Linked DNA regions of Homo sapiens. The protein of the gene in region 3 interacts with the protein of the main gene of each other region in a pairwise test. Each region holds a gene or a part of one and is shown on either strand. Other genes may lie near its edges.

Region 1 (10,662 bases), on a different chromosome or scaffold from region 3:
AACATGCAACAGCAGCATAGAGAGCAGCTGAAGCCATTCATAACACGGGACAACATTTCCTTTTTTCTTCCATGCTGGAATTGCAATTAGGGCGGTGTCGCTTGGATGTGCTCTCAGGCGGCACGTCCCCAGCGGTTCAAGTTATAATAGAGTCTCTCCATAGCTTTGATGGCCGCTAAACGTTTGTTTTATTTTGGCATTAATTTGTGAAACATTTTTGTTAGGTTAAAAAACAAAAAGTTGGCAGGGAGCAGTGGCTCACCCATGTAGTCCCAGCACTTCGGGAGGCCGAGGCCGGAAGACAGCTTGAGCCCAGAAGTTCGAAATCAGCCTGGGCAACATAGGGAGACACCGTCTCTATAAAAAAAAAATACAAAAATTAGCCGGGCGTGGTGGCCTGTGCCTGTGGTCCCAGATAGTCAGCAGGCTGAGAGATCACTTGAGCCAGGGAGTTTCAGTAGACTGCAGTGAGCTGTGATTGCCCCACTGCACTTCATCCTGGGTGACAGTGAGACCCTGTCTCATAAAATTAAAACAAAACAAAACAAACACTAAGTATAGATTCCATCAAAGCAAAATTGGATAAGAAAAAAAGTATCTTTTCTATTGGATCAGTTTGAAAACACTGGAGAGTTGATGAGAAAGTCTTCAACATCTTAGGTGGGGTATGTTTCGTATGTTTCCCTTCGTACTGCTTAATGCTGACAAGAAGATGGTAGGAGCCAACTCCAAATTCTTATTTCAGAAAGCACACCATAGAATAACGTCATTTTCATTGCAAAACAAGCACCGAAATATGTCATCACATTCAAGTTTTTCCTAGGCTCCCTTACAGGTTCAAGATCCTAAATTCTTGGGAGTCAGTGTCACCTCTCTGGGTTTAGGTTCCTCAACTCTGCAATGAGTTTGGATGAGGCCAATGTTCTCTGAGCCTGGTGTAACTCTTGCCTCTTTAAGTGGACACTTATGTGATTAATTAGTTTAATTGAGTTGTAGCCAACACATGCTTTTCCTAGCTGTAAATATATTAAGGAAGGATTATTTCCAAGTAGACTGGAAACGATGCCCTCCCATCCCCTCCACTTTCACTCTACTCACCCAATATATCATGCCTCTCCCATCACAGCAACTTTCTCCCTCTTTCTCCTCCAGATGCATTCATCTAGGAAGGTAAGAATTTCAGGGAGAGAAAGATGTCACCGTGGTAGAAAGACAGGGATCACCTCCTCTGGGCTCTTGAGTTTACTTATTCATTCTGGATTCTTTCTAACAAGAATATGAGGACAAGAGGCACTGTCCTCAGGCACTTCGTCCTGGGAGCCACCACCATCTCTGCATGGCCCCAATTAGGAAACGTGAAGAGCTAGGAGAGGGAGAGTATGGTCAGTGCTTAGCAGCTGAAGTTCCACTTGCCTGGCCATCGTGAATTTCCAGGCTGTCTTCTGAGTTGAACATGATGGCAAAGGAGAGCAAAATAGCAGATGTCACTGAAGGAGAGCTCAGCGAGGGAGTGATTGATTAATAGCTGTATTGAAAGGTGGGAGTCAGGTACGGGGGAAGAGCGGCGATGGAAAATTTTCGCTTTCTTTCAGCAGCTTATTTTTAACTCAGCTTTCTGTTCTTGCTTTATTATGGAGGAAAAATTGGGCCATAGAGTTTACTGCCTTATGCCAGATTGTTCAAGAAAATGCCTTGCAACTTACAATATTTTGCAGCTAGTTTCTTCCGTGACCACCACAAAGACTGCATTGACTTAAATATGAAGATGTTCCAGCCATCAAAATGATGGTTGGTGATGATTTTGGATCACAAAGTGTAAGGAAAGTATTCAAGACATGAGTATCATGATTTTTTAAGGTCTGGATGAAGAGACCATTTGGATTTACTAATAAGGTAAATTCCAACTTTTATGGCAATAAAAACAACAAAAACACTTATCAGTGTAAAGCTTTGGGATCATCTATCCATTAAATGAGTTTGTCACCACAGTGAACTAAATACCTTTTATCAACAGAGACTTTCTAACCTGGGAGTAAAATTCTTGTCACAGTGCTTTTGTCACATTCTGTCTTTGCAAAAGTTGAAGGCTCCAATAGTTTCTGAAGGACTAATAGGATAGGGTTCCAACTTACTCAGAGGCTAAGAGTTTGAAATTTACTCTGAACGATGTCTGTTCACTAGACTGCGTGACTGCAGTTTGCTGTCTTGTGGCCATTTTAAGATTGTCTGTGTGCACTGACACCATTTGCGTACTCAACAACAGGTATCTACTAGGAAGGAAGGAATGGATTATCTTAGGTGCTATATATATATGTAAGTTCTGCCGGAAGTGAGCCTATTAAACTTGTGCCAATTCATTCCTTTTGCTCTTCCCAGTCTGTGCTCTCAGAATGATCAAATGCTATCTAAGTAGTGTGGTGATTTTGACTGTTTGAATGAATAAACGAAAACGTCTCCCACCATTATTTGACAGTAGAATAGAACAAAGATGACCCAGTTGGCGTGGCCACACTGTGTCTAATCCAGCCACCTTGCTCACAGCACTCAACCCACTTTGGTGTGTGCGCTCATCTGTATTTTCGTAAATGTTGAAGTCTCTTTCTATGCAGTCAGGTAGGGGTAATACCATTCTGGCTTGGATTAATTTGAGTGTAGTACAAAGTTTAGAGAAGCTTTTAAGTAGCATGAAAAGTCAGATGCTTTCGGAGGGATGGTGGTGAATGTAGGTAAATGGATCTGCACTTAGAGATCCTCAACAGCCCTTCATTCAAGATACAGCTATCATGACATCAATAATGTACCTTTGAAAAAAAATTGGCTGCAGAATTAATTACGGTGAAAAACAGTATAGGAGTTAGCACTTACATTTTAACTAAAAAGAATAGCGTCCCCATGTTTATTCAGCCCTCCCTCCAATAAAACAATTGTTGGCAAAGTAATCATGGACTTTCATTGTGTTAGTTTGAGACAACTGGATGTTTCCATTTGCCATCCTCAGCAACAAGAAGAAAGTAGTCTCAGATTAACCAGGTAAGTATTTTGTATTTCACTTAAAAAATCTTGACTGAAATATGCCTATGTGATGACACTCAACCAAATTATTTCATTAACCAGTCCACAAGATCTCCTTAAATAATGATGGCTTATTCACACTTGATGGTCTCATTCAGTGGGGCAATTTTAATACACATCTCTGAACCTATTTTTTAACCCCTCTTTTTCAGTAGTGTGGAAGGTTAGCCCTAATATTGGAGAAAATTCAGGGTAAAATTCAGATGATTCATACAGGATTTATTTTTCCTATTCCATTAATAAAACAACTTTTATAAAAATAAAAAGTAGGCTGGCACAGTGGCTCACTCCTGTAATCCCAGCATTTTGGGAGGCCGAGGCGGGTGGATCATGAGGTCGGGAGTTCAAGACCAGCGTGGCCAGGATGGTGAAACCCCATCTCTACTAAAAATACAAAAATTAGCCAGGCGTGGTGGCAGGCACCTGTAATCCCGGCTACTCGGGAGGCTGAGGCAGAGAATGGCTTGAACCCAGGAGGCATAGGTTGCAGTGAGTCACGATCGTGCCACTGCACTCCAGCCTGGGTGACAGAGCAAGACTCCGTTTCAAAAAATAATAATAAAATAAAATGAAATAAAGTAAAGCTGCATGTTAGAGAAGTCAAGAGCATTACTTACGTTAGAATATCTGAACAGACCAATCAATTCAGTCTGATCATGATATTGATGTTTTTCTTCACCAAATCGACCACATCAGTAATTCACTTTGTTCTTCGATATCCTACAGACACTGCCTGAGTCGATAACTATGACTATCAGTCTCAGAGAGCAAATGAATTACTGAGGAAGCCCTGTAGGAGTGAGAGAAAAGGGGGGAGAGAGAGAGAAAGGGGTGGGGGGATAACAGGAGAACAGAAATTCCAAAGAGAATTGCATTCTCATTGAGTTCTTGTACCTCATGTCATTGCATAAATGTTCATCTTACTCACGTGATGACTTTGATCTGCCTTTAAAGCACCATCTGCTGCTTTCCTGGGATGCTCAACACTTCCCTCTTTCTAGCAACAAGAATTACCACTCTTCCCCTCTATACATTTATCTTTCTCTACGTGCTTTAACTTCTCAGCCTAATTTCGTCTCTGTGAGTTATTATCTATGTTAGAATAAATTCTTTGTCTTTGTTTACACACTCAGATTTGTAGTTATTTATTTAGGAATTTAGGAATAAAGATTCCATAGTCAGGAAAGGCACAATTTATAACTTGCGTGTTACCCAAAACTCTCCCCTAAGGGCTTAATATGGACATTTCTGACGAGGCCTGATGGGCAGGTGGTACGGTGATGCTAAGTTAAATTCAGAATGAAGGCCTGCCTTTCCTTCCCTCCTTCCTTCCCCTTCCCCTTCTTCCTTCCTTCCTTCCTTCCCTCCATCCCTCCCTCCTGTACTCCTCTTCTTTCTCAATTCTAAGGTGGCCTTAATTTCTAAGGGACATGGCAAAAGACAGTCTAGTTGGATGAGTGCAGTCACTAATATTATTTCCATGTATGGAAAATAACTGTTTCCTTAGTAACAATTGCATCAAATCAGTTCACCTGCTGCCCAATAGCAATCACAGGATGCATTGGGACAAATAAATATACTGACTGCCCCACAGCCACATGGTCTAAGTCAGTTACTGGAGAGCTGACTGAAGTTTGGGAAGCATATTCATCTTACGACACTGAGACATCCTCGGGGGGTTGCAAACACAGGTAGTGTGAAAATTATCAGAACATCCAAGAAAAGGAAAGTTTGACTAAGTGCCGATAAGATTTATGATGTCATGTCTGACATAGAATTGAAACCATCACAGAGCACATAGAGTGGTATATTTTCCTGTCAAATGAAAATCATTTTCTTTAAAAGTGAAATGAAAGTCTCTAAATACAAATTTACTAGAGGATGTGTAAATTTCCTACTTTTCATTACATACTCTGGACCCAACAGAGGGAAATTGGAGCTGTCAGTGAGCCATACATGCAATCTGGTACAGGATCTATGGATTGAATAGACTTTTTTTCATGGAACTACACAAAGCCAGTCTTAGTCATTTCAAAGAAAATTTGTGGTCATTTCAAAACCACCAGCAATTCCAGGGACACCAAGTTGCATAATTCTAGGGGAAAGTGGACTAAAAGTGAATGGCAGCCTCTGGAGTTATACTGAGCATTATTCTTAAAATGTCAATTTGGCAAATAGGTGGTAAGCGAGATCTGTCTGCCAGATTGTTCACATCATCTCTGCTTTAAAAAGATTGATCATAGAATATGTTAAAATAAGACCTGTGGAGAGGAGGTATGAGCTATTTAAGGTGGAAAGGTGTGGGAGAGGGTGAAATTAGTTTTAAATTTTCTAAAGCACTTTTTAACAGGAAAAGAAGTTCTTGGGCACTGAAGGCAGAATTAGATTAAAAGTATTCAATACTCTTCCATTATCAGAGAAATAGTAAAGCTACTAGAGTGCTTTCTGGTTGGGAAGGAAGAAGGCTACCAACATCTTCAAATAAAGATGAGAAGTAGAGCATATTCTTGGTGGATGAATGGATTCACGTGTACTTTTACTATATGCAAATGAAAAGAGCTTTAAAGATCAATAGTTTAGCAAGACTCTTATTTGAATAAGTGATCTTGGAGTGTTTACCCATTGTAACAAAACTCCTTTTCTCATAATTAGAATCATTAAGAAATTTCTCCTACATTTTAGATGACGGAGGTGTGTGTGCACGTGTGTGTGTATGTGTGTGTGATCAACTCATTGCATATTTCTTAAACCACAATATTGTTTAAGGAATTTTAGAAAATAATTACTCAATAGGAAAATGTTGGCCAATCCTCAGATATTTAGATAAGGCTGATTCAAATGCCTATTCTTTCACTGTTCTCACTATGACACTCTTATTTTTATTATTGGCCTGACTTCCGCAGTTATTTTGAAGTTACAGATTTTTAAATTTTGAGTTGAAAAAAAAGAGCAAATTTAGATTAAGGAATGAGAAGTAGTCCTCGCAGCCTCATGAATCTCCTGAAATTTCGAACGGCAAAATCTAAAATCTACAAGTTATTACCTTCTTACAGTAAATAGGTGGGTGTTATGGGTCGTTTTCTTTAACTTCTTTACTTGAAAAGGAATTAAATGATTTCCCTTTAACATAACTTCCCTTTGATTGTGCTCTGCTTCATGAAGTCTGATTTTATTTGCAATATAATTTACTTCAACTATTCACTGTACCCCATGAAGATTCAGCAGCATTTATAACTATTGTCCATAGTTTCAAAAACTAGGTTGTCTTTCTCTTCTCACCAAGTTTGGGATTAACTATGAAGAACCAAAGTGAACCCTTTCAACAACAAGGTTTGCTGTGGTTTTCAAGTTTTGCCTTTGTGTGGAACATTGTAATGACATAGTGGGAAAAGAAATATTTGGGGAGAGAATTAACCATGGCTGATACATAGCACGGGTATTTCTGAACAACCTACTAAATTATTTCTTAGAACATTTTGAAGTATATCTTGCCATAGGAGTGGGAACAGTTTCATACAAAAGCCTCCTCATGCTTCCAACTTTTCTTTAAAAAATTTTTTTTAAATTATTTTATTAAAAATAGAGGCCCGGCCCGATGGCTCACACTGGTAATCCCAGCACTTTAGGAGGCTGAGGTGGGCAAATCACTTGAGGCCAGGAGTTTGAGAACAGCCTGGCCAACATGGTGAAACCTCATCTCTACTAAAAATCCAAAAATTAACCAGGCCCGGTGGCTCATGCCTGTAATCCCAGCATTTTAAGAGGCTGAGGCGGGTGGATCACTTGAGCCCAGGAGATAGCGACCACCCTGGGCAACATGGCCAAACTTCATCTCTACAAGAAATACAAGTTAGCCTGGCGTGGTGGCACGCACCTGTGGTCCCAGCTACTCAGGAAGCTGAGGTGGGAGGATCACTTGAGTTCGAGGGTGCAGTGAACCAAGATCGCACCACTGCACTCCTTTGGCCTGGGACACAGAACAAGACCCTGTCTCAAAAAACAAAACAAAACAAAACAACCCCCCCCCCGCCCCACACACACACAAATAGTGGAACTATAGCACACAAGAGCCATGCATGAGTCAGTGTTCTCCACGAAAGCAAGCTTCAAAGTGGAACTGAGAGACCGGGCTCTGATCCTCACCCTCCCACTAATACCAGGGTAGCCTCAGCCAAGTCACTTAAATTCATGTCTTGAGAGAAGACAGAATTAACTAAGGAATCCCCAAACAGCAGTTCCCTTAGTTGAAATCACAAACGTACACACACATACCCTGACTAAGGAGAGCTTCAAGAAAGGCTGGAAGACTTAGGAGAGGTCAATGGTGACAATCTTAATTCAGAGTTAAGGTTGTCTCTCTGTCAACTTTGCTCAACGTTGGAGCATCTGTTGTTCTCTTGCAATCCACATTCGTTTTCGAAAACACTTCAGAAACAAAAATAGCATCAGCGGTGGTTGCCTGTGAACCTAAAACATATCATTCCAATGAATAAAATCAAGCAACCCTCCAGTTAACCTCATATCCAATTTTTCCTTTCCAGAAAGAAGAGATTTTATCGACATCGAAAGTAAATTTGCCCTAAGGACCCCTGAAGACACAGCTGAGGACACTTGCCACCTCATTCCCGGAGTAGCAGAGTCCGTGGCTACCTGTCATTTCAATCACAGCAGCAAAACCTTCATGGTGATCCATGGCTGGACGGTAAGGGAGGCTCTTTGGGGAAGAGTGGATTGGGGTGGTGAGGTATCCTGACTGGCCTGCCCAATTGTTGGGGACCCAGTGATGGGTCCGCACCCCACATCTCACGTGGATCTCCTTACACTTGAATAAAGACAGTTCTGGCTCAGGTGGGATCTGAAGCCACAGGTTCATGAGAACTCCCCCTAGGCAGTGCCAGCCTTCATTTTAACACTGTACCTGGTTGGTGCCCTTGAGCCAGAGCTTCCTGCGAGGTTGGTAAAGGATGCTCTGCCCAGCTACTGAGCAGAAGATAGGTGATTGCTGTGGGGAACCGGTGGAACCCTGGCATGATCCCGCATCACCCAGCACATTGCCAGGAGAACCTTTCTAAAGAAGACAGCATGGAAGAGTGAGGAGAGGGCTGGAGTGGAGTGAGGAAGTGTGGCGTCCATGCTGGCTTTGCCATTCTCCAGCTCTGTGCTGTGGATCAAGTCACTTGTCATCTCTGGGCCTCCATTTACTGATCTGTAAAGCAGAGGTTGCACTAGATGTCCCTAAAAACACTCTACTTCCAAAATTTTCCAGTTGTAAACTTTAGGGAGCCTTTCTGGAAATTAAAAAAAAAAAGGGCTGGGCAGGGAACTGACATGCTGACATGCCAGATGATTAGAAAAAGTGAAACTGTGATTAAATTTACTTTAAAAAATTGTTAAAAGTCCCCTCTCTAATATGTCACACAGTCACTTTAGATTATGTAGTTCTTGCTTAGTTTGTTTTAAAATGTTTCAATCCCAAGTGAGTAGACTGTGTAATTTATTTAAAAGGATTTGTGTAAAATGGCTTGTTAAAGATATATTATCTATCCATTATGTCAGAGCTTGTGAATATTATAATACTAATTTCTAGTGAGAACTAACTAAAAATAACATTCATCTAGTCCACATTTCTTTTCCTACATAATTTAAGTGGCTTTGTTATTGACTGAAGAGGACAATCGCTACAATTTTTATAGAGATGAGACTACTACTAACAGAATTCACACAGATGTTTAACAAAATATAGCCATTTACTATGTTAACATAGTAAATTCAATATTTTGTGATAAAATCTCAAATTCCTAAACATAAATCCTTTAATATTTTAATAGGTGTAAGTAGGAAAAAGGAATCTTTTTCTTTTTTGAGATGGAGGCTCACTCTATTGCCCAGGCTGGAGTGCAGTGGCGCGATCTCGGCTCACTGCAACCTCCGCCACCTGGGCATAAGAGATTCTCCTGCCTCAGCCTCCCGAGTAGCTGGGACTACAGGCGCCCACCACCACACCCGGCCAATTTTTATATTTTCAGCACAGGCAGGGTTTCACCCTGTTGGCCAGGCTGGTCTCGAACTCCTGACCTCAAGTGATCTACCCACCTTGGCCTCCCAAAGTGTTGGGATGACAGGCGAGAGCCACTGCATCTGGCCCAGAAAAAGGAATCTTTAGAGGCCCTTTGGTTATATACAGAACTTGGATTTTAAAATTTTTCAAAAAATCTGAGCTTAATAAACGCATTTATACAACAGAAATAAATTGAGTATCTCAGTCATCTCAATCTTATCCCTGAGAGAATTTTATACTTTGGGAAGTTGTGGGAAAAAAATGGTTCTTTTTCATACTAAGATGACATGACCAACCCAATATCAACAGACGGTGCCACTTCCTATCATTGGTCCTACTGCCTCACTAAGCCCACCTGTATCTTTCACATCATGTGTCCTGACATTTTGAGTGCTTGAGCACAGAGACTGCTGTCTGGCTGTGGGACTGAGTTGGGTCTGTGCAAGAACTAAGCCAGCCACACTGATCTTGATTATCTCAGTGAACTCACTGGCAGGGTCAGGTGGCCCACCTGGTATAGGCAGCAGGGAGGGCTTCAGTTCAGCTGCGTGTCTGAAAACCAAAGATTTAAAACATAGTAATTATTGAACCTCAGAAGAAAAACTCAGATTGAAAGAACTTAGAATAAGACCCTTTTTGAGTTGAGAAAGGTGAGTACTTAGATTTTTCATTTGCTTTGTTTGGGATTACTTACATCAGTATTTTATGTTGATCAGAAAGAAAGGATTCAATTAGCTATTGTTCGGTTAATAAAAATGTCAGCCACTGTAGGAGTAAGTTGGATGTCCAGCCTTTTTAGATTGCTTAACTTGGAAACACTGGGCTGGGAGCGGTGGCTCATGCCTGTGATCCCAGCACTCTGGGAGGCCAAGGCAGGCAGATCACTGGAGGTCAGGAGTTTGAGACCAACCTGGCCAACATGGGGAAACCCAATCTCTACTAAAAAAATACAAAAAAATTAGCCAGGTGTGGTGGTATGTGCTTGTAGTCCCAGCTACTCAGGAGGCTGAGGCAGGAGAATCGCTTGAACCAAGGAGGCGGAGGTTGCACTGAGCTGAGATCATGCCACTGCACTCCAGCCTGGGCGAGACAGTAAGACTCTGCCAAAAGAAAGGAAAGAAAGGAGGGAAAGAAAGGAAGGAATGAAAGGAAGGAAGGGAAGGAGGAAGGGAAGGAGGGAGGGAGGAAGGAAGGAAGGAATGAAGGAAGGAAGGAAGGAATGAAGGAAGGAAGGAAGGGAGGGAGGAAGAAAGGAAGGAAGAACAAAGAAAAGAGAAACACTGGTAGTACAGAAAAACTTCTGATAGAGGCCTAGAGTAAACCCGATTTTCTTGCCTTATCTGAAATAAGCTGCCTGGGGACTCACAGGCACAGACGAAGGGAAATGAGGAGGCTCTCCAGCTGTGTCATGAGACACCCAAAGGAATGCTTAGCATGTAGCATGCATGTGATACATCCCAGCAGGTTGCTTAGACACAGCTATCTTGGAGCTTTGCCACTTGCTTGGATGTCACTGGCTTTAAGTACAGGGT
Region 2 (10,662 bases), on a different chromosome or scaffold from region 3:
CCTCCAAAAACACCACCATCACTCAGGTGCAGCCTAAGGAGTCATCAGTGATCAGAAAGTGGCTAAGTTTCCTTAGCCTCCCTCATATTTTTTCTCTTCTTCAGGATTTTCAACCTCCTCACATCCCTAACTTTCTTACCCAAGCCTCAGCAATATAATGGTCTTTGGCTCTAGCTATCAGCAATAGCTGCAAGAGCACAAATGATCCCTTCCTAGTCCTCTAAAGTGTCAACCTCCATTCTTCAGTGCTTCTGAATCTAGCATAAGACCAAGCTTTCCGTCCGGCCCACCGGAAGGCAGTGGCTGCGCCGGCACCTCCCCGGCTCTGGCCTTCTAATGTCTCACACACAGAGGCTCTGCTCTAAGGCCAACACTTCTGGCTCTCTCATCTTGGCCACATTTGGCCCACCCATGTTGACTGCTTTCTCGTGTGTGATTCAGGGAAACAGCTCCATAGCCTCAAACGTTAATATCTGAAGATTTAGATCCCAGGCATTGTGGTGGTGTGCACACCTCTAACCTCATTTAATTAGGCACAGATGACCACATTATGCAACTTCCCAACAGCTTTCTCCATCTACCCGTGCTAGTCCAGCACCTCAGACCACATTTACCCCAAAGTATCTAACAGGCCACACTATAAAAGATTTTAGCTTTCAGTCAGACAAATAGCTTTCAGTCAAAACGATTAGACTGAGGTGGTAGAAGCTCACCAAAAGGGGAAAGGGAGTTTCCCAATAACATGTACGTTTGCTGGCCCTAGCAGTCTCAGAGGCCTGTCAGCCTGCAGGTCCCGTTCCAAGCACAGGGCATGCCAAGAGCAGCCCACTGAGAGCAGAGGAAGAGGGCTCAAACATTTGGGACCCAGACAATATATTTAGGAGGTATGGCTCCAATAGGGAGGGAGGAGGAAAACCACGTTCCGGGCATCTCCCTGTCTATCCAAATACACTTGCATAATGTGCACTTGGAGGAACCAAGCAGATGGGCTTCAGCACAGACTTCACTGCCACACCACACCAGGGAGAATAAGTTAGACAGAAACAGGCAGCATTCCCAAAGAGAGAAGGCTGACGCAGAAAAGTTCAAAGATGAGACTATGTAACACTGGGTAACACAGGAAAACACTAACTTCAGCTGTTTCAAAGACAGACAGGATTCCAAGCCAAAGCTTGTATGACCAGATTTAAGAGTAAGAACTGCGCTTCAAAGAAGAGTTAGAAATGTCGTTGTCATAGGCGATCAGGATAACAAGAGGCTTCATTCTCCCTCGCCTCTGTGACGCTCTTTCTGGGTGATCCAAGTTTTGTTTTTTTTCTAGTTGATTATTTCTCTTTATTTCTGTATGTGTGTGTGGTTTTTGTTTTGTTTTGGAGACAGAGTCTCGCTCTGTCACCCAGGCTGGACTGCAGCGGCACCATCTCTGCTCACTGCAACCTCCGCCTCCTGGGTTCAAGGGATTCTCCTGCCTCAGCCTCCCAAGTAGCTGGGATTACAGGTGCCCACCACCACGCCTGGCTAATTTTTGTATTTTTAGTAGAGATGGGGTTTCACCACGTTGGTCAGGCTGGTCTCAAACTCGTGGCCTCAAGTGATCCACCAGCCTCAGTCTCCCAAAGTGCTGAGATGACAGGCGTGAGCCACCACGCCTTGCCTGGGTGATCCAAGTTTTAAGAACCAAGGTAGTCCTGCTGTGCAGGCAATGATTCTAGCCTCTGACCCTCAGGCGGAAAACTAGGTGTTACCAGAAAGTGTTTAGGGAGTGGACTATGAGATGCTCACAGTCCTAGCAGAGGCAAGGAAAGAGAAAATGTGGTTTTCTTAGCTGAAAACACTAAAATTCCACCCCCACAAGGGGTATTTATGAGTGACAGGGGTGGGGCCTGGACATAAGCAATTTTCCCCTGGATCTAGCCACAGGATTACTGATGGGTGATGATCTGCTAGGCCGCGTAGCTAAGCAGCTAAGGAGACAGGAGGCCAGGGCTTTAAAAGTTAGAGCATGCTCAACAGCAAGTGCTAAGCATTAGCATTCTTTGATTTGAAAGTCAAGTGTTGAATCCCCCCGGGCAAGCCAACAAGGCAGATGGAACCACAACCACCAGGCGTGTGTGAAAAGTGGGGAGAAAACCTACCACACTCTTGTCACGTGAGGGTATGCTCTGTGGCTTGCTGGAGGAGCAGCAGAGGGAGGTCCCTGCCAGCTGCAGCTCTCAGAGGAAAAGAAAGATGTGGAGCACTGGTTCCAGGGAAGAATGTTCTGAAGAGGGACAGAGGTCAAGGTGATAAGGCTGTTGCTTTAGAAAGGAAGGTGTTTCCTATGCTTTTGCCTTTACATTCTGTGCAAATCTCTCTAATATGGCTATGACCAAAATGGATTAACATCAAGTTCCAACAGCAGACATTTACAAAGTATCCTTTGTAAAAGGCTAGGTAATATTAATAGCATTCAAATAGGAGTAGCAGGGCCAGGCACTTACTCCCAGTAGGAAACTAATCTCAATCGACTTGGTATAGGATTGAGTATTGTCCCGCTCCTCTCCTCATCATTGTAACTCTAAAAGTGTTCCTTCCTTCGAAGGTAGATGGCACGAAAGAGACTGACAAAAGCTCCCAAAGAACTGGGTCACAGAGTTTTCTGAGAAGATGAACACAGCAGAAACACTGCAGTTGATGCCATGGGTCTGCTTCCATCCCCATCAGTGTCTTCATGGACCCCATTGGGTCCAACAAGAAACTCCTCAGGGAGTAAGAAAAGTTAGGTTCAGATCTCCTTCCCGCAGCCACAATGACACTGGTGACAGCAGTACGTTCAGGGGATTTGTGACTGTAACTCTGCTTTTCGCTTTTCCTTAAGGAAATCAAAATTAAGATATTTCTCCACAAATTACCCATCAGCGTGGCTCATTTCGTGAAGGACTTGGCAAGCCACATAGCTTCAGAACGGAAGGCAAATGCTATAGTATACCGGGAAGAAAAGGCCTCTGCGTATTACACTACCTCCTTCTTCTGCCCACTCCTCAGGGGCAAAAAATTAGTTCTACATTTGAAAGACGAATTTTTTAAAAAATTAATGAAAATGACAATTTCCCTGTTGAGATCACGTGAACATAAACAGTGAAACAAAGCCCTTGGGGGGGGGTAAATGGATGCAGAGCAGGCTTCTAAGGTGCAGTCCCCCTCCTTCGTGTGGGTGAGTGATGTCACTTGCAGGACAGGCTGTTTGGGTTCCCCCAGTCCTAGGTCTTCTTTCCCCAGTTGTCTTTCCTTTGTAGCTGTCCTTAGGTTTAGTGTTGGGGTCACAATTTGGAATTCAACAGAGAGCTTCTGAAGGTAATGGGACAGAAAGGGAGGACAGGAAAGGAGGGAGGAAACATTAGTCTTCTTCATCCTCACTGATATCATAGGCTGCAGCCTTGTGCCTGGAGAGATTTGCTGGGGAGCAAGGTGGGGAAGTCTTGCCGGAGAAGGGCCATCGGAAAGAGGGGGAGGGGGAGCGCTCGCGAGTAGGGCTGCTGCTGGGGCTCTGCTTCGGGCTGATGGCCTGCAGCATCCGGCCCTTCCCCTCTTTCAGCATATGTTTCTGCAGAAACCGAAAGGAAGAGTCAGAAAAACACCGTGGATCCTACTTAATCATCACTGAAGCATCTAGGACTGGGATAGTCTATGCTGTACTATTTATTTAAGGGTTCTCCCCTGCTGTCATCACCCGGGAAATTCCCCATTCTTCCTCAATAATCTAGTCTAGGATTATTCTAATTTATCCAAACACCTTCACAGACAGATCCTTCCTGATATCTAACCTAGGACTCACTTGCTCAATCTTTTATTTGGTTGAAAAGACTGCTACTCCTCAAAGACAGAATTCCCACCTTACCTGGGGTTCCTGCTGCAGCTACTTGTAGTGGAGGCTGCTTTCTTTTTATTGTTCTTTATTCTTTCCTTTCCTTCTATCTAAAATCATACCACAGATAAAAGCTGGGCAAGGCGACTTGCTTATCTTGTCACCAGACTTTAAGGTTGAGAGAGAGCTGGCAAAATTATCTAGGAGAATGTGTAACGTCTTTCTGTAAAGGTTTCAAAAACCTTGCTGGGGACAGTTGAAAGATAGTTCTGCCCAGATAAGGGGATAGACTAGATAACTTCTCAGTGTCGATGCCCCTTCCTGCTCAATGATTCTGTCATTCTTTCCACAACATGGAACTCCCTACATTGTCCAGTGGGAAAGAACATACCAGTGCTCCTTCCGGACCAAACATTTCCAGAAAACTTCCAATGAATTCTCGGGACTTCTCCTCCCACTTCTGAATGAGGTCAATGCTTTTTTCCTCCACCTTCTGAACAAATTCTTTTGACTTTTCCTCCACATCTTTCACTTTCTTCTTTACTTTGTCAACCCTCTCCTGCAAGTGGTATTTCTTCTCCTAGATAAAGAAATAACTCTTCTGAGAAATAATGCTCATCCTAAACTTCTCTACCATAAGAGAACGAAAAAACATGGCTCAAGCACTCAATTGACACTGTTTTCAGTCTAGAATTTTGCTTTGCTTTAATCTACCCCACTCTCAGCATAATAACAGATAAGATATGCTGTGGATGCACACACAAGAAGTGGTAATTCTAATATTGTGGGCATTTGGGAATAAACTAAAAATATAGGCTATACCCAGTAACAGGCACGTAGCCAAATAAAGTCAGAGTTTTAAAGATAAAACATAAACTTGGAACATAAACATGCGCAGCATGGCCCGAACCTCATTCCAGACGGAGATACAGAGGCAGCTAAAAGATCACTGCACAATACTGCCAAGAATAAACTAATTACAATAGATTGAAAGAGAAAATACTAGATCTTTTACTTAATTAATCTGCTTATTGTACTGGATTTTTCCCCTCTATCACTGGCTTATTCTATTATTTTAAATGAATTGTGTTTTTTGCTTTTTGTTCCTTTAGTATTTTAAGGTCCATTTACTCATTTGCAAAATGATGATACTCGTTGGTCTTACCAACTTTGCTAAAGATAAGGAAAATGGTATAAACCCTCCGGTGGAAGGGAAGGGAGTATTTAGTCAAATGAGAAGTATCCTTGGCCAGGCACAGTGGCTCATGCCTGTAATACCAGCACTTTGGGAAGCCGAAGTGGGAGGACTGCTTGAGGCCAGGAACTCGAGAGCAGCCTGGACAACATAGCAAGACCTCATCTCTACTAAAAATAAAAATATAAAAAATAAGCTGGGTATGGTGGCCTGTGCCTGTAGTCCCAGCTACTCAGGAGGCTGAGATGGGAGGAGCACTTGAGCCCGGAGGTCAAGGCTGCAGTAAGCCAAGATTGCGCCACTGTACTCTGGCCTGGATGACTGAGTGTGACTCTATCTCAAAAAAAGAAAAAGAAAAGTACTCTCAAAATTTCCAGATCATAAAGAGAAAAGGGATTATGTTTAGAATTTTTAAACACCTGATTTTTATGGGAAAAATAAAGCTATAGTAAGTAAATTAACAAGAGCTAGGGTTTATCTGCCTAGATAAATCATATTTAGATGTAATCATTTTATCCATTCTTATAGCACAATTTACAGAGATGGGAGTAGGTCAGGGAGCATGGTAAACTGGTTATGTAGAAGACATTAAAGTTAGCAGCTTTCTTCTTTTTAAATCGATTTTATTGAGGTCTAATTTACATACAAAATGTATAGTGTTGGCTGGATACGGTGGCTCATGCCTGTAATCCCAGCACTTTGCGAGGCCAAGGGGGTCCGATCGCTTGAGGCCAGGAGTTTGAGACCAGCCTGGCAAACATGGCAAAACCCCATCTCTGCTAAAAAAAAAAAAAAAAAAAAAAAAAAAAAAAATTAGCCAGGCCTGGTGGCACATGCCTGTAATCACAGCTATTCAGGAGGCTAAGGCACCAGGAGACAGAGGCTGCAGTGAGCCGAGATCACGCCACTGCACTCCAGCCTCGGTGACAGAGCGAGACCCTGTCTCAAAAAGAAAGAAACACTACATATATATATATTTGCATGAATTTTTTTAGTTTTTTTGTTTGTCTGTTTGTTTAGAGATGGGGTCTCGCTATGTTGCCCCCAGACTGGTCTCAAACTCCTGGCCTCAAGCAGTCCTCCCGCCTCAGCCTCCCAAAGTACAGGCATGAACTACCATGCCCAGAAAAATATATAGAGTTTCTAAAAGGCAATATTAAGCTAAGATAAACTTAACTTTCGTCAATCCAAATTTAAAACTCAGGTCTGTGTGGGAAGTGGTGTGTCGGGTGTCACTATCCACACGAGGAGGGCTCATAGCCTTTCGCAGGTTCCCAAGACATCATCCAACCGAAGAAGAGAGAGGAAGTTTAAGAGACACCGTTTTCCATTTATTGACAGAAATACTGCACTATATAAATTACTCATTTATTTAGTTGGCTGTATGGCTTTATACGAATGTGTTGGTACCAGACCGTAACGGCAGAAACTGTCTGTTTCATTCTTTTTGTGAACAGTTAACATAGTGGTAATTCATTCACTGAACTTTTGGGAGTGATCATCAAAGCCAACTGCAAAGCCAGTTCAGCTGAGATGGAGTGGGAGGTGATATGTCTCCTACAGAGTCAGGGAACTCTGGGGTAAGGCTGGAACTCACGTTGATAAAGCTGACATTGAGCTCCTTTGCTGTGTAGCCCCTCTGCAGGTTCCGCCTCGCATACACATCATAATCCCGCACAATTCGGGTGATGATGTCTGATGTGGAGATACCTTCTGTCCTCTGTGTTGGAGCAAACATGCCTAACTCAGAAACACATACAGACAAACACTGTGAGGTTCTGGTTAGCTCAGGTATTAAGACTAAATGGAAATTGGGGGCAACATTCCTTTCCTTTCCTCAAAAAGCAGAATCTGTTATTACTAAATGAAACTGAAAGATACTGATATACAGAAGGTAGACCGAATCAAAGGCCAGAGGTAAGGCAAAGAAGAGTTACATAGCCCTAATATTAAGAAAAATATGAGAAAGGGTTTCCTGAAATTAAGAGAGATATCCAAAGTAGATGTTTAGACCAAGAATTGATGGATGTCATGAACTGACGACAAAGAATTGATGGGTGCTATGCTCATCTTTACCTTTTATCCAAAATGTGGCCTGAAAGAGGATGTTGAATTTCTAATGTACACATTTTCCTCTGTAAAGCAGCAACATGGCTGAACATCTGCAGCTGCCCTGAGATCCCCTACAGTGAGGAAGCACAGCTCACTCACCTGCCTCCTTGATGTGCTTATAAACATCATCACTGCCAGCAGATGAATAAGGAATATCATCATGGGCTACAAAATCAATCTGAAAATAAGGAAACATCATTAAAACCCATGATAACTGCCATTCAGAAAGACCCAGTCAATGTTCTCAGGCCCAGAAAAAGGACAATAGGCAGAGGCCAGGCCTCAGTGGACTTCATATCTCTCTTTGCTTTGCTCATAAATTCTACAATCTATTCACAAACCACCCAACCTAATGATTTATGGAGTATACATATGAAGTTAGCCAGCTGCTTTTGTAGCTATTTCTCCTAGTCTGCTAGAACTGTTACCCTCACTCTGTATACCAGTCATCTTGCTGTGGTCAATAGGGCCAGAGGGTTTGCTGGTGAACCGGTTAGTGGGTGGAGCCTAGGAAAGAAGGAAATCTCCCTGTCCTGGGTCTGGAAGGATTTGGTCAAATAAGGGTTTCTAAAAGTATGAGAAAGGCCAGGCACGGTGGCTCATGCCTGTAATCCCAGCACTTTGGGAGGCCAAGGCGGGCAGATCACGAGGTCAGGAGTTCAAGACTAACGTGGCTAACATGGTGAAACCCCGTCTCTACTAAAAATACAAAAAAATTAGCCAGGCATGGTGGCGGGCGCTTGTAGTCCCAGCTACTTGGGAGGCTGAGGCAGGAGAATTGCTTGAACCCAGGAGGCAGAGGCTACAGTGAGCCAAAATCGCACCACTGCACTCCAGCCTGGGTGACAAAGCAAGACTCTGTCTCAAAAAAAAAAAAAGTATGAGAAAGAGGTTACTTCTTTCTTAACTAGTTTCTCTCAGTCCGTGAGAAAAGAGGGAATATAAAAATAGCAACCACGAGCCCTCTGACTGGAATAGATACATCTATTGGCCTGAGAAATACAAACCGAAGGCCATAAGAGAAGTTTTCTCCCTCTCCCCTCTCCCTTCTCCCCTCTCCCCTCTCCCTCTCCCCACGGTCTCCCTCTCCCTCTCTTTCTATGGTCTCCCTCTGATGCCGAGCGGAAGCTGGACTGTACTGCCGCCATCTCTGCTCACTGCAACCTCCCTGCCTGATTCTCCTGCCTCAGCCTGCCCAGTGCCTGCCATTGCAGGCGCACGCCGCCACGCCTGACTGGTTTTCGTATTTTTTTGGTGGAGACAGGGTTTTGCTGTGTTGGCCGGGCTGGTCTCCAGCTCCTAACCGCGAGTGATCCGCCAGCCTCGGCCTCCCGAGGTGCCGGGATTGCAGACGGAGTCTCGTTCACTCAGTGCTCAATGCTGCCCAGGCTGGAGTGCAGTGGCGTGATCTCGGCTCGCTACAACCTCCACCTCCCAGCCGCCTGCCTTGGCCTCCCAAAGTGCTGAGACTGCAGCCTCTGCCCGGCCGCCACCCCGTCTGGGAAGTGAGGAGCGTCTCTGCCTGGCCGCCCATCGTCTGGGATGTGAGGAGCCCCTCTGCCCGGCCGCCCAGTCTGGGAAGTGAGGAGCGCCTCTTCCCGGCCGCCCATCGTCTGAGATGTGGGGAGCGCCTCTGCCCCGCCGCCCCATCTGGGATGTGAGGAGCGCCTCTGCCAGGCCACGACCCCGTCTGGGAACTGAGGAGTGTCTCTGCCCGACCGCCACCCAGTCTTGGAGGTGAGGAGCGCCTCTGCCCGGCCACGACCCCGTCTGGGATGTGAGGAGCGTCTCTGCCTGGCCGCCCATCGTCTGGGATGTGAGGAGCCCCTCTGCCCGGCTGCCCAGTCTGGGAAGTGAGGAGCGCCTCCTCCCCGCCGCCATCCCGTCTAGGAAGTGAGGAGCGTCTCTGCCCGGCCGCCCATCGTCTGAGATGTGGGGAGCGCCACTGCCCCGCCGCCCCGTTTGGGATGTGAGGAGCTCCTCTGCCCGGCCGCGACCCGGTCTGGGAAGTGAGGAGCGTCTCCGCCCGGCAGCCACCCCGTCCGGGAGGTGAGGGGCGCCTCTGCCCGGCCGCCCCTACTGGGAGGTGAGGAGCCCCTCTGCCCGGCCACCACCCCGTCTGGGAGGTGTACCCAACAGCTCATTGAGAACGGGCCATGATGACGATGGCGGTTTTGTCGAATAGAAAAGGGGGAAATGTGGGGAAAAGATAGAAAAATCAGATTGTTGCTGTGTCTGTGTAGAAAGAAGTAGACATGGGAGACTCAATTTTGTTCTGTACTAAGAAAAATTCTTCTGCCTTGGGATCCTGTTGATCTGTGACCTTACCCCCAACCCTGTGCTCTCTGAAACATGTGCTGTGTCCACTCAGGGTTAAATGGATTAAGGGCGGTGCAAGATGTGCTTTGTTAAACAGATGCTTGAAGGCAGCATGCTCGTTAAGAGTCATCACCACTCCCTAATCTCAAGTACCCAGGGACACAAACACTGCAGAAGGCCGCAGGGCCCTCTGCCTAGGAAAACCAGAGACCTTTGTTCACTTGTTTATCTGCTGACCTTCCGTCCACTATTGTCCTATGACCCTGCCAAATCCCCCTCTGCGAGAAACACCCAAGAATGATCAATAAAAATACATAAATAAATAAAAGAAGTTTTATCCTCAGGATCTATCATTTCACTACTTTTTTTTTTTTTTTTGAGACCGAGTCTCGCTCTGTCGCCCAGGCTGGAGTGTAGTGGCACAGTCTCGGCTCACTGAAACCTCTGCCTCCTGGATTCAAGCGATTCTCCTGCCTCAGCCTCCCGAGTAGCTGGGACTACAGGCGCATGTCACCCCGCCTGGTTAATCTTTGCATTTTTAGTAGACAGGGTTTCACCGTGTTGGCCAGGCTGGTCACGAACTCCTGACCTCAAGTGATCCACCTGACTTGGCCTCCCAAAGTGCTGGGATTACAGGCGTGAGCCACAGCGCCTGGCCATTTTACTGCTATGAATATCCTTTGCAAGGGCAAGAAGAGATGAATGATACTGGGGATCAATAATGTTGTTCGGAGGCGTGCTAAACTTCACTTACTCCTTCCTGTATGGGCCACCAGCCTTTTGCTGATAATTACTAAGATCACTATACCATCCCCGAGAGACCACTGTAGTGTGAAGCATGTTCATTGGGACTATGTCAGAGACTCTCAGCCAGCATCTCAATTACTCATGAACAACTTGTCAGGGATCCATAGGCAGCAAAGTAAAGAATAGGAGGCCGGGTGGATCACCTGAGGTCAGGAGTTCAAGACCAGCCTGGCCAAAACGGCGAAACACTGCCTCTACTAAAAATACAAGAAATTAGCCGGGCATGGTGGCGCGCACCTGTAATCCCAGCTACTCGGGAGGCTGAGGCAGGCGAATCACTTGAACCCGGGAGGCGGAGGTTGCGGTGATCCGAGATCACGCCATTGCACTCCAGCCTGGGCAACAGAGCAAAACTCTGTCTCAAAAAAAAAAAAAAAAAGAATGG
Region 3 (10,662 bases):
ATTGATTAAAAATCCACAATGAGAGGTGACTACACCAACAAGCTGCTGAAGAGAGAAAAAGAAACTCTTGATAAACATTTCAGGAAGGGCTCACCCTGGTGGATAAGGGAAACCACATTTTGCCCGTTGGCTGCATGTGGGTCAAACCTGATCAAGAAAAATGGTGGACATGTGTGCTAAATCCAGGCTCTCAATACAAAAAGGCACCTGAAGCCACGCACAGTGGCTCATGCCTGTAATGCTAGGACTTTGGGAGGCTAAGGCAGGCAGATCATTTGAGGTCAGGAATTTGAGACCAGCCTGGCCAACATGGTGAAAGCCCCTCTCTACTAAAAAGTACAAGAGAAAAAAAAAATTAGCTGGGCATGGTATTGCACGCTTGCAACCCCAGCTACAAGGGAGGCTGAGGCACGAGAATTACTTGAACCCAGGAGGCGGAGGTTGCAGTGAGATAAGATTGCACCAGTGGACTCCAGCCTGGGCGACAGAGTCTTAACTCTGTCTCAAAAAAAAAAAAAAAAAAAAAAAAGGAAAAAAAAAGGCACCTGAATTCTGGACTCTATCTTCACATGTATTGTTTTTAATTTCTTATAGGCAACAGTATAGAGAATATGTGCATTTATTTTCAAGGACAGAGAAGGCAGAGCATGTTAAACTACCCTCCTACCCAATGACTCATGGATAAGGATAACAGAAACAGGAACAAAATAACAGGTGGGAGCAGGTATAAAGAAGTCAGTTAAAGAGCTGAAATCCTGGGCCCTGTTGGCAAAAAAAAAAATGCAACAAGAAGACGCCTGTGGGCCGGCTGCCGCACAGCCACGGGCCTAGATGCTTTCATAGGGCACTTCAAGACTAAGGTGCTGCTGAATTACTTGTTGCAGGGACTAGCAAATCTGGCCAGCTACCTGCTTTTGTAAATAAAGTTTTATTGGCACCCAGCCATGCTCATTCATTTATGTAATGTCATTCATTACGTAATGTCTGTGACTGCTTTCATACTAGAAGAGTTGAGTGGCTGCGGCAACTGGCAAAGCCTATTTTCTGCCAGGCCCTTTACTGAAAAAGTTTGCTGACTTCACCTATGCTAAACAACTAACATTTCGAAATTAATGTGGTCACAATTTTACCTAAGAAAGTTAACTTCAGAATGATACGGGCAACTTATTTCTTCCTCTATGCCTTTCTTTTCTCAACTGTAAAATTGGGATAACAATCATGCCTACTTCTTAAGACTGCTGGGCAATTAAATGAGCTGAGATAATGCAGGATTAAAGCACTTAGAATAGTGTATAAATACCAGATATCCATTAAATGCTACTGTAATGCAGCTAGGTACGTTTGGCTCAGGGTCAAATTCCCAGTGGAATTTAAAATGTGCTGTAACTCTAAATAAATGATGGTACAATTATGCAATGGATTATTCTGCAGCTGTAGAAAAGAATGAAGACATTTAATATACTGATATGGAAAAATCACCATGATATATTCATCAGGCAAAAAAAGAAAATGCAAGCTGCAGAACAGTGGGTATAGCATCTGCCTTTTATATTTTAAAAAGGAGGAAAATTAAGATTGTGTATTTGTACTTTCTCGTATATGCATAAAGAGACAATAACAAGCTACCAGTCGGGGCTGAGGAGCACTGGAAACCAGGCATAAAGGGAAGGGGTGGGATAGATTTTTCTTTGTGTAACATTTTATATATGTATATATATATATATTTTTTTTTTCCTGAAGGAGTCTCGCTCTGTCACCGAGGCTGGAGTGCAATGGTGCGACATTAGCTCACTGCAACCTCTGTCTCCCAGGTTCAAACAATTCTCCTGCCTCAGCCTCCCAAGTAGCTGGGATTACAGGTGTGCGGCACCACACCTGGCTAATTTTTGTATTTTTAGTAGAGATGGGGTTTCACCATGTTGGCCAGGCTGGTCTTGAACTCCTGACCTCGTGATCCACCCATCTTGGCCTCCCAAAATGCTGGAATTATTGGCATGAGCCACTGTGCCCGGTCCTTTTTAAAAACTTTTGAACCACGTGAATGGATTACCTATGAAAAAATTAAATTAAAAATGCTGTGTCTCAAACAGGTTAGAAGGGAGTACAGATGCTGTGCTCTGGAAATTGCTAGGTTAGTTCAAATGTGCCTCCCATGAAGACACCAACATTAAAAGGCACGTGAAGCATCTAAATGCGAGTCAAAAAATGCGAATGAAAAAACACATGTGATAAATATGATTTAAAATATGTATATACCATGGCATTAAATTAATGGTAAAACAAAAATTTGGCTGTCACACCTCTATCTTCAAGAGTTAATCTAGTCAAAGGCTGTTCTTAGGTTCTTTGCCTTTAAAGGAAAACATCTTGCATCTGGGCTTATACTTCATATTCTTCTCTAGAAATCCAGCAAAATGGAAACATGCAGAATACCTAGTGAAATTTCTCCCTCCTCCCCAACCACCCGACCCTTTTCTATGCATTTACATGCATGTATACAAACACGTTTATCCTATACCTATTATACCAAAATTTGCTTTTTTCACTAAATAGTGTCTTTATCTTTCTAGGATATAAACATAGATCTCCTTTTTCCTTTAATGGCTACATAGTATTTCATAGTATTTTCTAATTTATTCAACCATTATCTATTTGTAACCTACCTCCATTTTTTTTTTGCTATTTTACACTGTACTGCTATGAATATCCTTGTGCACACATCTTTCTACTTCTGCAAGATAAATACATAGATATGGAACTGGGCAAACTCGACAGAACTACTGAGGATGATTTAGATTTATAATTTGCCTCATAACAAATCAATTTCAGATAGAAGAGTTACATGTATTTTTAATGAACCAAATCAGAAGAGCTGACAGGTAATGGAATATTAACAATTAAAATACAAAAGCATTGGTATGCAACAAGATCTACAAAAAAGAAGAAAAATAAAATGCAAAGGCATCAACAGATGGATTTAACTCTAAAAGTATAAAAACTTAATACAATACAAATTCATAACACTAACAAAAAAGGATAAAGAATGCATAAAATGTTTGTAACACATATAAAAATGTACTAGTATCGGGATCCAATAACTAAATGCTAAATGGGCAATAAAAGGAAATTAAAAAGAGTAAAAATTAAAGTAATAGGTACTAATGTGTAACTATTAGCAATTTTTCCAGGTGAAGATTATCGTTACAATTAAAAAAAAAAGAAATTTTACAAAGCATGTCTTAAAAATAAAGACCGCTGGAGCTTCAGGGAAACCAAAGAACTGAGGGAAAAGCAAATTGGTAACACTGATTAAAATTGAAAATATCTGTGTTTTTTGATACTATGCTTGGAAATTTATTTTGTGGAGATAATTCAAAGGAAGGAAGGAGCAGGAGGTCTTTAAACAAAGTTGATCACTGCAGCATTATTTGGAAGTAAAAGGAGTGAAACCTAGATGTTAACAATAACACTTAGGATAAACGACACTATGTTGAAACACAGTTCACATTAAATTATTAGTTTTTGAGACAGCGTCTTGCTCTGACCCCCAGGCTGGAGTGCAGTGGTGTGATCTCGGCTCCCTGCAACCTCCATCTCTTGGACTCAAGTGATTCTCTCACCTCAGCCTTTCAAGTAGCTGGGACTACAGGTGTGTGCCACCACACCTGGCTAATTTTTGTATTTTCTACAGAGACAGAGTCTCACCATGTTGCTCCTGGGCTCAAGTAATCTGCCCTTCTCGGCCTCCCAAAGTCCTAGGATTACAGGTGTGAGCCACTGCACCTGGCCCCAAGTTATTATTATTATTATTATTTATTTCTTTTTTGTGAGACGGAGTTTCGCTCTTGTTGCCCAGGCTGGAGTGCAATGGCGCGATCTCAGCTCACTACAACCTCCGTCTCCCGGGTTCAAGTGACTCTCCAGCCTCAGCCTCATGAGTAGCTGGGATTACAGGCATGCACCACCTCGCCCAGCTAATTTTGTATTTTTAGTAGAGACAGGGTTTCTTTATGTTGGCCAGGCTGGTCTCGAACTCCCAACCTCAGATGATCTGCCTATCTTGGCCTCCCTAAGTGCTGGGATTACAGGTGTGCACCACCGCACCCAGCCCAAAAATTATTTTTAAAAGCAGAAGACTGTGGAAATAGTGGATATGTAAAGGTAATGGGATTATGAATATGGTTTCTTGTTAATGTCCCCTTAATATATGATATTTTTCAAGGCCACTGAGTCTATAAAATAAGGAAAAACGTTAACAGGGAAGATGGGAGTGATAATTTCCTGGAATGGGACTGGTTTTTCTGGACATCATGAGATACTGCTCTCCATGATTAAACAGCAATTGACATAAATTCAACAATAATATAATAAAAATCTCAGTGAATCAAGTTTTCATAACACAAAAATGTTGTACACGCTAGTGGTTCTATAAATAACACATGCTTTAACATCAAGACACTTCAGGGCAAAGACACAAAGTACTAAACGGAATATAACAAACTTATTTTTGTATTGATAAATACTTACCAAGTAATAACTGTAGTATATAAAATATAAGTCCAAAGACACTGTTTGGCTGGTTTAATACACCATCCTTTCCAAAAATGGAACCCAAAAGACCAAATCCTCGACCCCATCTGTAAAATAAGGAAAACCAGTAACCCTATATTTGAATTTCCCTATTTTAAAAAATGTATCATTATTTGAGAACGTTATCCAATTCTAAAATCAACTAAGTTGTGAAATGTCTTAAATGTCCTGTGTTGAGAGAGTGATTTGCCCCAAAGAGAGGGAGGCCAGTCACTAGATTTCTGATTAGAAATAATCATCTAAAATGAACATATCTAAAGGTGCCAGTATACCCATCTGAATCTCTCAGTTGCCAATTTCTATATATTCTCTTCTCCAGAAGGTAGGGCAAAGTATTCGTTTTCCAATGGCATTAGTATTTGCAGAAGGAGACTTCTCTATGCAGAAGGAGACAGTTGTCCACTGTCTCTTAACAGTGGACTACTGACATTTTGGGCTAGATAATTCTTTGTGCTGTGGGGTGTTCTGTGCATTACATAACTAACAGTACCCCAGAGCTCCCCCAACTAGATGCTGCCAGTACTCCTCCATCCCAGGTGTGACTACCAAAAATGCAGTCACAGCCATTGCCAAACATCCGCTGGGACACGACTGCCCCCAGTTGAAAACCATAGAATGTAAGTTGTGCTATTTATTCACTCAAAGAATATAGATTGAAAAGTTGTTTCTTCACAAATTTCACCAGGATATGCATTAAGAAATATACTGGGAATGTATTTTTTAAATGTAGGGCCGGGCCCGTGGATCACACCTATAATCCCACCACCTTGGGAGGCCGAGGCGAGCAGATCACAAGGTCAAGAGTTCGAGACCAGGCTGGCCAGCATGGTGAAACCCGTCTCTACTCAAAATACAAAAAATTAGCCGGACATGGTGGTGTGCACCTGTAATCCCAGCTAGTTGGGAGACTAAGGCAGGAGAATCACTTGAACCCTGGAAGCAGAGGTTGCAGTGGGCCGAGACTGCACCACTGCACTCCAGCCTGGGCAACAAGAGCAAAACTCCATTTCAAAAAAAAAAAATGCAGGATAATATCAGAAACTATAGGTCTTTCCTGGAATCCTATCTCAGATGTAAAAAACTGGATACATTATATGCCCTATCAGTTTTTATTTGCAATTTAACTTTAAATCTTGCATTTGACTTAACATTTTTAAAACCTGATTTTTTTTAAATTGTTAACTTATTTGATAAAACTTGATACAAATATCAAACATTCATTTTGAATAAAAAACCTTTAAAGATAATGTTAACTCTGGATTGAACGAGAGTGCTTCTTAAATACTAAAAAAAAAAAAAAAAACCAGTTATGGTGTTAAGTCAGTAGAGAATCAGTCTAAACAAAATCTAAACTTTGGTTCTGAAGACAAACTGCCCCAAAGCAAGGATAAATAAGTAATTCTTCACAGGCCACAATAGTTTAATAGCACTTGATGCCCAAGATATAGAATGAAACCCCTGTATAACGATGATGTTGGGAGAGAAAAATCACCCCGATTTTACAAACAAGTGAAAGCCATGAAGATTTTTATTGTAGAATTATGCAATCCTTTTTGTTTGTTTTGTTTTGTTTTGTTTTTTTGAGACAGGATGTTCCTCTGTTGCCCAGGCTACAGTGCAGTTGCAATCATGACTCACTGCAGCCTTGACCTCCGAGGTTCAAGTGATTCTCCTGCCTCAGCCTCCCGAAGTAGCTGAGACTACCACACCCAGCTATATATATATATTTTTTTTTTGGTATTTTTTTATAGAGTTGCAGCTTTGCCATGTGCCAAGGCTGGTCTTGAAGTACTGGACTCAAGCAATCCTCCCACCTTGGCCTCCCAAAGTGCTGGGATTACAGGCTGAGCTATGACACCCAGCCTTCAGTTATACATTTCAAAGAACATAAAATAATTTCCATTATATTCATTTATTCTTTCACTCATCTAAATACTTATTGAGCATGTACTGTGTGCACTGACGCTACGTGCCGGGGATCCAGAAGTGAACGAGCCAGACGAGGTGCTGCCCTTGTGGACCTTAAATTCTATTTAGGGAAGAGAAATAATAAACAGGTAAACAAATGCCAGATTACCTGCAGCAATGGACACACCTTGTAACAGATACACAGGAAAATTAGAAGGGGAAACTCTAGATCAGTGCTTCTGAAATTTTTAAAGCACAATCACTCTGGGGTCTGGTTAAAATGTAGCTGTTCCTTCAGTGGGTCTGTGGTGGGGCCTAAGACTCTGCATTTCCAGAGAAAACACAACACAAAATGAAATGCTTGCAGGCAACACTGACGCTTCTGGTCTGAAGCCCACACTTGGAGATCCATAGCTGTGGGCAGAGAAGGGGTGCAGCAAGCTCCTCTAGCTTGATGGTCGGGAAGGACCTTTTCCAGGAATGAAGTTTTGAATGAGATCCTGAGTGATGGTAAGCAATCGGTCTCATGAGCAATGGCAAGTCAAAGGCCTTGAGGTAGGAATGAGCTGTGGGTGTGCCAAGGAAGGCCACTGAGGCTGGGGCATGGTGATTGAGGAGAGTGACAGGAGAACTGGGAGCGAGTCCAATCATTTACATTATTTAGGGCCTTGTGTGTAGGCCATGCCGAAGAGTTTGAATTTTATTCTAATTGCTATGAAAGACGTTTAGTAGCTTTCAAACTGGAGAGTGAGATAAGCTTATTTATGATCACTCTTCGCTGCTGCATAAAGAACAAACTGCTGGAGGCCAGAGTACAGATGGGGAAACTATATGTAATCAAACCTCTTAGCCCTACTCATCCCAGGCAGGAATTCCAATTTAAATCACTGCCTTTGGCAACAGAAATAAATGGCATACTGCCAAAATTATCATGGCTAAACAGAATTTTTATATATTCAAAGCACTGGTCTATGCCTGATTATTCATGTAAGATCACATGGGTATTTTCCTCGAAAACAATGTGGCAATCCACAAATGAATATATTATCAAAGTTATACATGCATAAGGTTTCAAAATAAAATAAAATCAAAGCCTTCTAATACAGAGATGTTCCCTCCTCCAGCCCTCCCCAAGTCAGTTCTCATCCCAGAGGCATCCACTTTGATGTCTGTTAACTGTTTCCACCTTTTTTTTTTGAGACGGAGTCTCATTCGTGTCGCCCAGGCTGGAGTGCAGTGGCGCGATCTCGGCTCACTGCAAGTTCCGCCTCCCAGGTTCAGGCCATTCTCCTGCCTCAGCCTCCCAAGTGGCTGGGACTACAGGCGCCCACCACCATGCCCAGCTAATTTTTTTGTATTTTTAGTAGAGATGGGGTTTCACCGTGTTAGCCAAGATGGTCTCGATCTGCTGACCTCGTGATCTGCCCGCCTCGGCCTCCCAAAGTGCTGGGATTACAGGCGTGAGCCACTGCGCCCGGCCCTGTTTTCACTCTTATTTACTTCCACATTTCTAAATAATATGTTTACATTGCTATTTTTTTTTTTCTTTTTGAGACAGTCTGGCTCTGTCGCCCAGGCTGGAGTGTAGCAGCGCAATCTCAGCTCAATGCAACCTTCACCACTTGGATTCAAGTGATTCTCCTGCCTCAGCCTTTTGAGTAGTTGGGATTACTAGCACCCGCCACCACGCCCAGCTAATTTTTGTATTTTCAGTAGAGATGGGGTTTCACCATGTTGGCCAGACTGGTCTTGAACACCTGACCTCAGGTCATCCGTACGCCTTGGCCTCCCAAAGTGCTAGGATTACAGGCATCAGCCACCGCACCCAGCCCTAAATATTATCTTTTGACTCGCTAATATGGTAAGCCAGAATGTTGCTTTTTTTTTTTTTTTGAGACGGGGTCTCACTCTGTCAATAATGTTAGAGTGCAGTGGTGCAATCTGCACTCATTGCAACCTCCACCTCCCAGTCTCAAGCAATTTTCCCTCCTCAGCCTCCCGAATAGCTGGCACCACAGGCATCCACCACCGTGCCTGGCTAATTTTTGTATTTTTGGTAGAGATGAGGTTTCATCATGTTGCCCAGGCTGGTCTCGAACTCCTGAGCTCAGGCATTCCACCTATTTTGGCCTCTGCAAATGCTGGGATTACAGGTGTGAGTTACTGTGGCCAGCCAAATATTGCTTTTTCTTAAAAAAAAAAATTATAGAAAACTTCAAATGCATATACACAAAGTGAGCACAAGAGTGTAATAAACACCCATGTATTATTTTGCTATGGTAAAGAGAAAGGGTACTATAAAAACAAAACGCATACAAAAAAACAAAAAAAACCCAGGTACCCATCACCCAGCTTCAATAATTACGCCTTTCTTGTTTCATCTCCACCTCTACATACTCATCACTTGAGAATTACTTTTAGTTCTTTTATTTTTATTTTTTGAGACAGAGTCTCATTCTGTCACCCAGGCCAGAGTGTAGTGGTGCTATCTCGGCTCACTGCAACCTCTGCCTCCCGGGTTCAAGTGAGACTCCTGTGTCAGCCTCCTAAAGTAGCTGGGATTACAGGCTCCCACCACCACGCAGGGCTAATTTTTTTTATTTTTGGTAGAGCCAGGGTTTCATCATGTTGCCCAGGCTGGTCTCATCTTCTAGATTCAAGTGATTCTCCTGCCTCAGCCTCCCAAGTAGCTGGACCACAGGCATGTTCCACCACACCTGGCTAATTTTTTGTAGTTTTTAGACCTCAAGTGATCCGCCCACTGAAGCCTCCCAAAGTGCTGGGATTACAGGCACAAGCCATTGTGCCCAGCCACAAGGAAGTTAAACTTCTGATTACCTTTATTTACTGATTTGTTATTGATATTTTGGAAATCATTTGCTTTTTCTTTGTTGTTTAAATTTTTGTTACTAATAAATATGCCATTATCTTGCTTTTACCACCTTAAGAATATCAACATTTATTCTTTAAAACAATAATCTTAAAATTATCTTTATTTTTATTTATTTATTTTTCAGACAGAGTTTCACTATTGTTGCCCAGGCTGGAGTGCAATGGCACAATCTCGACTCACTGCAACCTCTACCTCCCAGGTTCAAGGGATTCTCCTGCCTTAGCCTCCTGAGTAGCTGGGATTAAAGGTGCCTGCCACTACCCCACCTAATTTTTTTGCATTTTTAGTACAGTTGGGGTTTCACCACATTGGCCAGGCTGGTCTCGAACTCCTGACCATTAAAAAGGAAGAATGGACCTTGGAAAGTCTAAAAAGGTGGGAGAAACAATTATGAGGCTTAGATGGGTACATGTAAGATGCTCTGAGGAACTTAGTGGAAGATTTGTAAACTTATTTGGTAAGTTGCTGTTTTCATTATTTTTAATGTTATTACAGTTATATATAGTTTAAAAAAATCAGATAGTGCTACAAGACTTGGAACAAAAAGCAGCATTCTTCTGACCCCTGAGGTATCCTCCTTAGAAGCAACTCATTTTACTGGTTTCTCTCAATATTTACCCACAAATTTCTTTTTACAAAAATTCCTTATTATTTTTGTTTTTAAATTTAAAACATTTTTTTTTGTAGAGAGGGTTTCGCCATGTTGGCCAGGCTCGTCTCGAACTCCTGGGCTCAAGTGATCCTCCCACCTCAGCCTCCCAAAGTGCTGGGATTACAGGCATGAGCCACCAGGCCTGGCCACTTATTATTTTTGGATCATCTAGCACTGTATGCTAAACTAGACTATGATTTCGTAGACTTTCATTTCCCTATCCCCCTCCCAATTATACCATAATTTGTACTTATATCAAAATTTTTGGTTCTATCAGTATATATTGTTTATATGGTTATCACTATATTGTCTGACACAGAGCCCAGAATGATCTGTTCTAACAAGATTCTGTAGAGTAAATCAAGTCATAGGCGATCAGTAAATAGAAGAATGACAGTAACACAACACCAAGTTGCACGGTCCAGACATCATTTTCCCCAGCATGTTAAAAGTGCTCATGCCTGGAATCCCAGCACTTTGGGAGGCCGAGGTAGGCAGATCACTTAAGGTCAGGAGTTTGAGACCAGCCTGGCCAACATGGCGAAACCCCGTCTCTACTAAAAATACAAAAATTATGCAGATGTGCTGGCGGGCGCCTGTAATCCCAGCTACTTGGGAG

Evidence for each region.
Region 1: the proteins of VKORC1L1 (region 3) and LPL interact in binary tests that used the Homo sapiens proteins (3 or more experiments, as listed by UniProt).
Region 2: the proteins of VKORC1L1 (region 3) and PCYT1A interact in binary tests that used the Homo sapiens proteins (3 or more experiments, as listed by UniProt).

The regions. Positions count from the first base shown.
Region 1 is NC_000008.11:19,940,567-19,951,228, forward strand, and holds part of LPL (lipoprotein lipase precursor), read left to right. Parts: intron 1-7,613; coding exon 7,614-7,774; intron 7,775-10,662. UniProt on the Homo sapiens protein: Key enzyme in triglyceride metabolism.
Region 2 is NC_000003.12:196,235,312-196,245,973, forward strand, and holds part of PCYT1A (choline-phosphate cytidylyltransferase A), read right to left. Parts: intron 7,330-10,662; coding exon 7,251-7,329; intron 6,780-7,250; coding exon 6,637-6,779; intron 4,425-6,636; coding exon 4,236-4,424; intron 3,584-4,235; coding exon 3,377-3,583; 3' UTR 1-3,376. UniProt on the Homo sapiens protein: Catalyzes the key rate-limiting step in the CDP-choline pathway for phosphatidylcholine biosynthesis.
Region 3 is NC_000007.14:65,942,646-65,953,307, reverse strand, and holds part of VKORC1L1 (vitamin K epoxide reductase complex subunit 1-like protein 1), read right to left. Parts: intron 4,638-10,662; coding exon 4,528-4,637; intron 1-4,527. UniProt on the Homo sapiens protein: Involved in vitamin K metabolism. Can reduce inactive vitamin K 2,3-epoxide to active vitamin K, and may contribute to vitamin K-mediated protection against oxidative stress.